Homo sapiens: one gene and its partner. The protein of the gene in region 2 interacts with the protein of the main gene of each other region in a biochemical or structural test. Each region holds a gene or a part of one and is shown on either strand. Other genes may lie near its edges. The genes, in order: LATS1 and CDC26.

The links.
Region 1: of the proteins of CDC26 (region 2) and LATS1, one has a biochemical effect on the other in vitro, tested with the Homo sapiens proteins (one study listed by BioGRID).

Annotation. Positions count from the first base shown.
Region 1 is NC_000006.12:149,676,567-149,680,393, reverse strand, and holds part of LATS1 (serine/threonine-protein kinase LATS1), read left to right. Parts: coding exon 1-519; coding exon of another isoform or gene 520-527; intron 528-1,648; coding exon of another isoform or gene 1,649-1,712; intron 1,713-3,656; coding exon 3,657-3,827. UniProt on the Homo sapiens protein: Negative regulator of YAP1 in the Hippo signaling pathway that plays a pivotal role in organ size control and tumor suppression by restricting proliferation and promoting apoptosis.
Region 2 is NC_000009.12:113,269,357-113,272,723, reverse strand, and holds part of CDC26 (anaphase-promoting complex subunit CDC26), read left to right. Parts: intron 1-175; 5' UTR 176-216; coding exon 217-297; intron 298-3,367. UniProt on the Homo sapiens protein: Component of the anaphase promoting complex/cyclosome (APC/C), a cell cycle-regulated E3 ubiquitin ligase that controls progression through mitosis and the G1 phase of the cell cycle.

The DNA of each region.
Region 1 (3,827 bases), on a different chromosome or scaffold from region 2:
ACATCCGTCTTAAAAGGGCTAAAATGGACAAGTCTATGTTTGTGAAGATAAAGACACTAGGAATAGGAGCATTTGGTGAAGTCTGTCTAGCAAGAAAAGTAGATACTAAGGCTTTGTATGCAACAAAAACTCTTCGAAAGAAAGATGTTCTTCTTCGAAATCAAGTCGCTCATGTTAAGGCTGAGAGAGATATCCTGGCTGAAGCTGACAATGAATGGGTAGTTCGTCTATATTATTCATTCCAAGATAAGGACAATTTATACTTTGTAATGGACTACATTCCTGGGGGTGATATGATGAGCCTATTAATTAGAATGGGCATCTTTCCAGAAAGTCTGGCACGATTCTACATAGCAGAACTTACCTGTGCAGTTGAAAGTGTTCATAAAATGGGTTTTATTCATAGAGATATTAAACCTGATAATATTTTGATTGATCGTGATGGTCATATTAAATTGACTGACTTTGGCCTCTGCACTGGCTTCAGATGGACACACGATTCTAAGTACTATCAGAGTGGTAAGTAAACTCATAAAATTTATTTTAGTTTGTTCATAATAATGTAATTTATTGATGTAGTAAAATATAAGATGGTATCATCACTGGATGAGAGCCAGAAGATGTGGGTCAGGTCTTGATTCTGTTGGATAAACTTGGGTGACTCCATTAGGCACTTAGACTTATGAAATGAAAGAATGTGCTAGACTTGATTGTTTAGACTTATGAAATGAAAGAATGTGCTAGACTTGATTGTTTCTAAATATTATTAACATTTTTGAGTCACACCTTTTACATTTTATTTGAAAATATGCCAGACAAACAATTTTTTTTTTTTTTTTTTTTTGATGGAGTCTCGCTCTGTCGCCCAGGCTGGAGTGCAGTGGCACCATCTTGGCTCACTGCAATATCCCCCTCCTGGGTTCAAGTGATTCTCCTGCCTCAGCCTCCCGAGTAGCTGGGATTATAAGCACCTGCCAGTACGCCCGGCTAATTTTTGTATTTTTAATAGAGATGGGGTTTCACCATGTTGGCCAGGCTGATCTCGAACTCCTGACCTCAGGTGATCCACCTGTCTCAGCCACCCAAAGTGCTGAGATTATAGGTGTGAGCCCCCTGCGCCTGGCCAAAAACATTTTTAAAATAATTTTTTAATGAATCCTCATATCCAACATTCAGTTAAAGAACTAGATTATCAGTACTTTAGAAGCCCTTAAACAATCACTTCCCCTTTTCTCCTCCACAAAGATAATTATTATTTCAGAACTTTATAATCGGTTCTTTACTTTTATCGATCCTTTTATCACAAATGTGTATATCTTTAAATAATATATTATTTCATTTTGCCTACTCTTTAACCTTTATTTAAATATAATCTATATATATTCTTTGTGTTGACTTGTTTGAGGTTCCTCCATGTTATTGCTTGTAACATTTATTTTCACTACTATTTAGGATTTCATTACATGACTGTTACACAACTTATATAACCCTAAACACTTTATGATCCTTGATCCTATTTTATCCTCACAATGTCACTGTGAGGCAGGATGAAGAAACTGAGACCTAGTTAGATGAAGTAACTTGCCCAAGGTCAGACAGAAATCAAGTGTAAGGGCTAGGCTTTGAACCCAGGTTTGTCTGATTTCAGGGCCCATGTTATTTCTACTACACCACACTGCCTCACCAAGATCCCTCCAAGCGCTAATGGAAGTGTAAGTCAATCTAACATTTGTTAAATACTATGTACTAGGTGCTTAACCATATATTCTAATATGCTCGCAACAATTCTCTGAGGTAAGTATTATTAGCCTCCTGTGCTTCTGTGAACACAAGTAGATTGACATTAAAATGGGTAGAACTGAGACAATTGAACCTACTTTAATGTTCGACATAGTGGAATTTAGTGTCTTCCCAGATTCGACTGAATTATTACCTGGAAAGCTTCTTAAAAATATGATTCCTAGGCTCTATTCCCATCTTTTGATCAAAAATCTTCACTGGGGCATAGAAATCTTTTTGTTGTTTTTTGTTTGTTTGTTTGTTTGTTTTTGAGACGGAGTCTCGCTCTGTTGCCCAGGCTGGAGTGCAGTGGCGCAATCTCGGCTCACTGCTAGCTCTGCCTCCCAGGTTCACGCCATTCTCTTGCCTCAGCTTCCCGAGTAGTTGGGACTACAGCCGCCGGCAACCACGCCCGGCTATTTTTTTTTTTTTTTTTTTTTTTTTTTTTTTGGATTTTTAGTAGAGACCAGGTTTCACCGTGTTAGCCAGGACGGTCTCAATCTTCTGACCTCATGATTTGCCTGCCTCTGCCTCCCAAAGTGGCTGGGATTACAGGCGTGAGCGACCACGCCCAGCCTGTTTGTTTTTTTTTTTTTGAGACGGAGTTTTGGTCTGTTGCCAGGCTGGAGTGCAGTGGCGCGATCTCGGCCCACTGCAACCTCCATCTCCTGGGCTCAAGCGATTCTCCTGCTTCAGCCTCCCAAGTAGCTGGAATTACAAGTGTGCTCCACCACACCCAGCTAATTTTTGTATTTTTAGTAGAGATGGGGTTTCACCATGTTGGCCAGGATGGTCTCAATCTCTTGACCTCATGATCCACCCTCCCTGGCCTCCCAAAGGGAAATCATATTTTAATCAAACATCCCAGATAAATATTACAGTTAGGTTAATTTCTTATATTCTAGGTGACTTCATGCCATCTATATGTCAATGAATTCCAAATCTCTCTCTCCAGAAATGGCCTTTCTCTGAAATTCGTAATTTCTCTATCCAGCTGCTTCCTGGCTATCTTCACATGGATTTCAAATAGGCCTTTCAAACTTCACATGACCCATAAAGAACTTTTTTTTTTAAGCATAAATCAGATACTGTTATCTTCTTGCTTCGAACTCTGCAATATCTTCTCACTTTACTTGAGGTAAAAGGCAGACCATTTCTATTGCTTGCAAAACCCACATGTATTCCTGCCGCATTTCTTACAGTTCTTGCCCCATTTCCTACAGTTCTCCCCTTTATCAGCTGTGCTGGTCTTCTCTCTGTTGCTGTTATTTCTGTGTGGAATACCTAATCCTGATTTATAAATGGTTGAGTCCTTCTTGTTTTTTTACGGTTTAGCTGAAGTCACCTTCTTAACTGGTCTTCCCTAGCCATTCAGTCTTATGTAGCTATCCAGTCACATTTGTTACATCACCCTGTGTTGATTCTCTGTGTAGGGTATGTCACTGTTCCTTATATGTGTAATTGTTTTGTTTCTTTTCCTACTAGAATGTAACCAGAGCTTTGTCTTATTATCACTGTCATTTATTGAATGAAAGATGGATCTAATTTGTTTGAAAGTTTGTCCAGAGTAGTAACAGGGAGTGGGCTAAATAACAAACTCTTAATCTCCCCATGACTCATATTGTTGTTATTTAACATTGCATAAATTACTAAATCTTAGGCTAATTTTTTTTAAGTGTAAAATCCTTCCTATTGACATCTCAGAAAATAGGCTCTAATTGGTAATAAACACCATCAGTGATTTGGCATACATTGTGTCTTAGTTTGTCACAAGGGAGAATGTTGTTAACCCTAAACCACGATGTCAGAAGATTAAATAGACTTCAGGTTTACTGTTGTCATTGTTGACTTTATTTACTTATTCTTTTGTTGTGCAGGTGACCATCCACGGCAAGATAGCATGGATTTCAGTAATGAATGGGGGGATCCCTCAAGCTGTCGATGTGGAGACAGACTGAAGCCATTAGAGCGGAGAGCTGCACGCCAGCACCAGCGATGTCTAGCACATTCTTTGGTTGGGACTCCCAATTATATTGCACCTGAAGTGT
Region 2 (3,367 bases):
AAGATCCTATCTCTTAAAAAAAAAAAAAAAAAGACTTTAGAAGTCTATGTGTAAATTCAAATAAATTTTTAATATTTCCATTCACTTTAGTATACATGCTTGCAAATTGATTTTATGTTTTGTATCTGAGACTTTATCACCTTCAGATTTTCCTCCTCTCTTTCATTTTTAACAGCTAATAGTTCACTGGGTTTGGCCCTTAGTGTTGACTTCAGTATGCTGAGACGGAAACCAACACGCCTAGAGCTAAAGCTTGATGACATTGAAGAGTTTGAGAACATTCGAAAGGACCTGGAGGTATGAATACAACTTTGTGTTTTTTTGAGATGGAGTCTCGCTCTGTCACACAGGCTGGAGTACAGTGGCATGATCTTGGCCCACTGCAACCTCTGCCTCCTCTGCCTCAGCCTCCCGCGTGCTGGGACCACAGGTTCATGCCAGCACGCCCAGCTCATTTTTTTATTTTTAGTAGAGTTGGGGTTTTGCCATGTTGGGGCCAGGCTAGTCTCAACTCCTGACCTCAAGTGATCCATCCACCTCAGCCTCCCAAAGTGCTGGGATTACACGCGTGAGCCACTGCACCCAGCCATGAATACAACTTTCAAAGCTTAAGGAATATTTAAGATAATAATTCTTGTGTGGGCACAGTGGCTTACATCTGTAATGCCAGCATTTTCTGGCCAGGAGTTTGAGACCAGCCTGGGCAACATAGTGAGACCTTGTCTCTATGTTGGGCAGGGTGGCGCATGCCTGAGCTACTCAGGAGGCGGAGGCGGGAGGATTGCTTGAGCCCAGGAGTTTGAGGTTACAGTGTGCTATGATGGCTCCACTGTACTCCACACTGGGCAACAGTGAGACTCTCTGTCATACATAAATATGTATATACACACACATACATACACAATAACTTTAACTTCTGAACTGCAGACTCTTAAGCCAACAGCTTATTTGAAATCTCTGTTTGGATGCTTTACAGGCATCTCAAACTTCATGTATGTCTCCTGTGGCTGCTGTAACAAAGTACCACAAACTTCATCGCTTAAGACAACAGAAATTTATTATTTCACAGTTTTATAGGCCAAAAATTAGTATTGCTGGGCTGAAATTTAGGTGTCAGGAGGGCCACATTCCCTATGGAGGATCTAGGGAAGAATCCATTCCTTGGCTCTTCTAGCTTCTGGTGGCTGCTGGCATTCCTTGACTCATGACTGTATCACTCCAGTCTCTGCCTCCAGAGTCATATTGTCTTCTTTTCTGTCTGTGAAAACTTCCTCTGCCTCCTTCTTATGATATGTGTGATTGTGTTTAGGGCCCACCTGACTAACCCAGGATAATCCCCCCTTCTCAAGATCCTTAATTTAGTCACACCTGCAAAGGCCCTTTTCCCATATAAGGCATTTATAGGTTCCAGGATTAGGACCTGCTAGCTTTGGGGGCCATTTTTCAGCCTACTACACTTAACATGTTAAAAAAAGAAGAGAGAAAAACTCTTGATTTCTCCCTTGAACCAGTCGTCCCTTCCATTCTTCCCCAGTGTTTCCCATCTCAGTATTGATTCAGTTCCTCAGGCCAGAAACCTAGCAGTCATTCCTGAGTCCTCCCTTTCTCTTACGCTTTATATTCGATCTGTCTGTAGACCCTTTGATTCTACCTTCAGAATATGTCTGGAATCCACCCATACCTTTTCATCTCCACTGTTACAGTCCTGCGCTAAGTAACCGTCTTTCCCTGTATAATTGTAGTGGCATCCTAACTGGTCTTCTACTTCCATTTTTGTCTCTTTCAGTGCATTCTGCATCCAGTATCAAGAATGATCTTCAGAAATTTTCAAATCCTGTCATTCCCGTTTAAAACTCCTCAGTAGTTTTCTGCACTTATAACAAAATCTGAATTCTTCACCATGGCCTACAAGATTTTGTATGTTCTAGTGCCTCTCCAGATTCATTTTGTGCCATTCTTTGCCTTGCTCTCTATACCCTAGCCACATTGGCTCTCTTTCATTTCCTTGAACATGCCAATCTATTTATCACTTCCATGGACTTTCCACATATTATTTCCCCCTGCCTGGAGTGCTCCCTTTCTTCCAGTCTTCATTCAAATGTCAACTCTTCAATTTAAGAGGCCACTTTTGACCGTATCCAAGTTTCATGTGTCATTCCCGTCCATGCTGCCTCCATCTCTGTAGGCTCTCACAAAGCACCATATTTTTTTCATAGCATTTATTATAATTTACAATTTTTTTTATTGTAAAATCATTTACATTAGGGACGTTGATTGCAGAAATCATGTCTGTTTGCTTCACCATTGAGTTCTTACCATCTAGTTCATAGTAGGGGCCCCATATGTATTTTTAACTGTGGCCTTGCTACATGGTATTAGATGTCCATTAATAAGACTTAAATTCTTCAGTGGTCTACAGAATAAATTCCAAATTCCCTAGCATGGCATATGAGCTCCTTGTGAGCTGGTCCTTGCTTATCTCTCCACTTTCACTGCTGGGTTATCTTTAATCTCAGTGCCTATACACAGTGTTCCCTTTGCCAGAAAAGCCCTTTCTTTTTCTTTGCCAGGCTAACTCTTACTCCTTCCAGCCCCCAGCTGGGTTAGGCTCAACCTTATCCTCCTGTGCTAACCTCTCTCATAGGCACGGTCACTCTCTGTTGTAATTGTCTGTTTGCTTTTGTTTTCCCTCACTGGGCCATAAGCTCCTTGAAGTCAGGGATTAGTATATTTCTCTCTGCATCTGTTCCCTGCAATACCAGGTCCAAAGGAGGGCTCAATGCAAGTCTATTTTCATTTGCTGTCCTAGTAGGTATCTTGTACTATATGGCAGAGGACAGTACGTTTTGCATATATTCACCAACAGCTTTATTATGTATTGTATATGCTTCATATTAAGACTAATAACTTAGATTTCTTTCCCCCTGCTTCATCCCAAGAGACTTTAGTGTTCTCTAAGTATCGTAATTTTTGCTTTCTAAAAACTCATATATTATTAAGCATGAGCTTTAAAGTATGGCTTAAACTTCAGTTGTAACGAATCTCATAAAATGCTAGCATGCTGAACTTTGACTCTACAGTCAGCTCACTATTGAGTTAGTCTTTCCACTAAAGACAGTTATCTAGTGGGTTTTACCTTGTTTTAGAGTAACTTAGGAAGCAGGGACAGTCATGCCCTAAAGTGAAACCAGTAGAAAACTGGCCTGTTTCATTTATTACCAACATGAGTTTGATTATACTACTGTGACTCTAGCTTCTGAAACAGCAGTTGCTCAAAGTGGGAAGCCTTTTAAGTGATTTCATTCCATTTGGATATTCTCAGAATGATAGAGTTGTTTGCCTTTTCGAACTTGTTTTCACAAAGGTA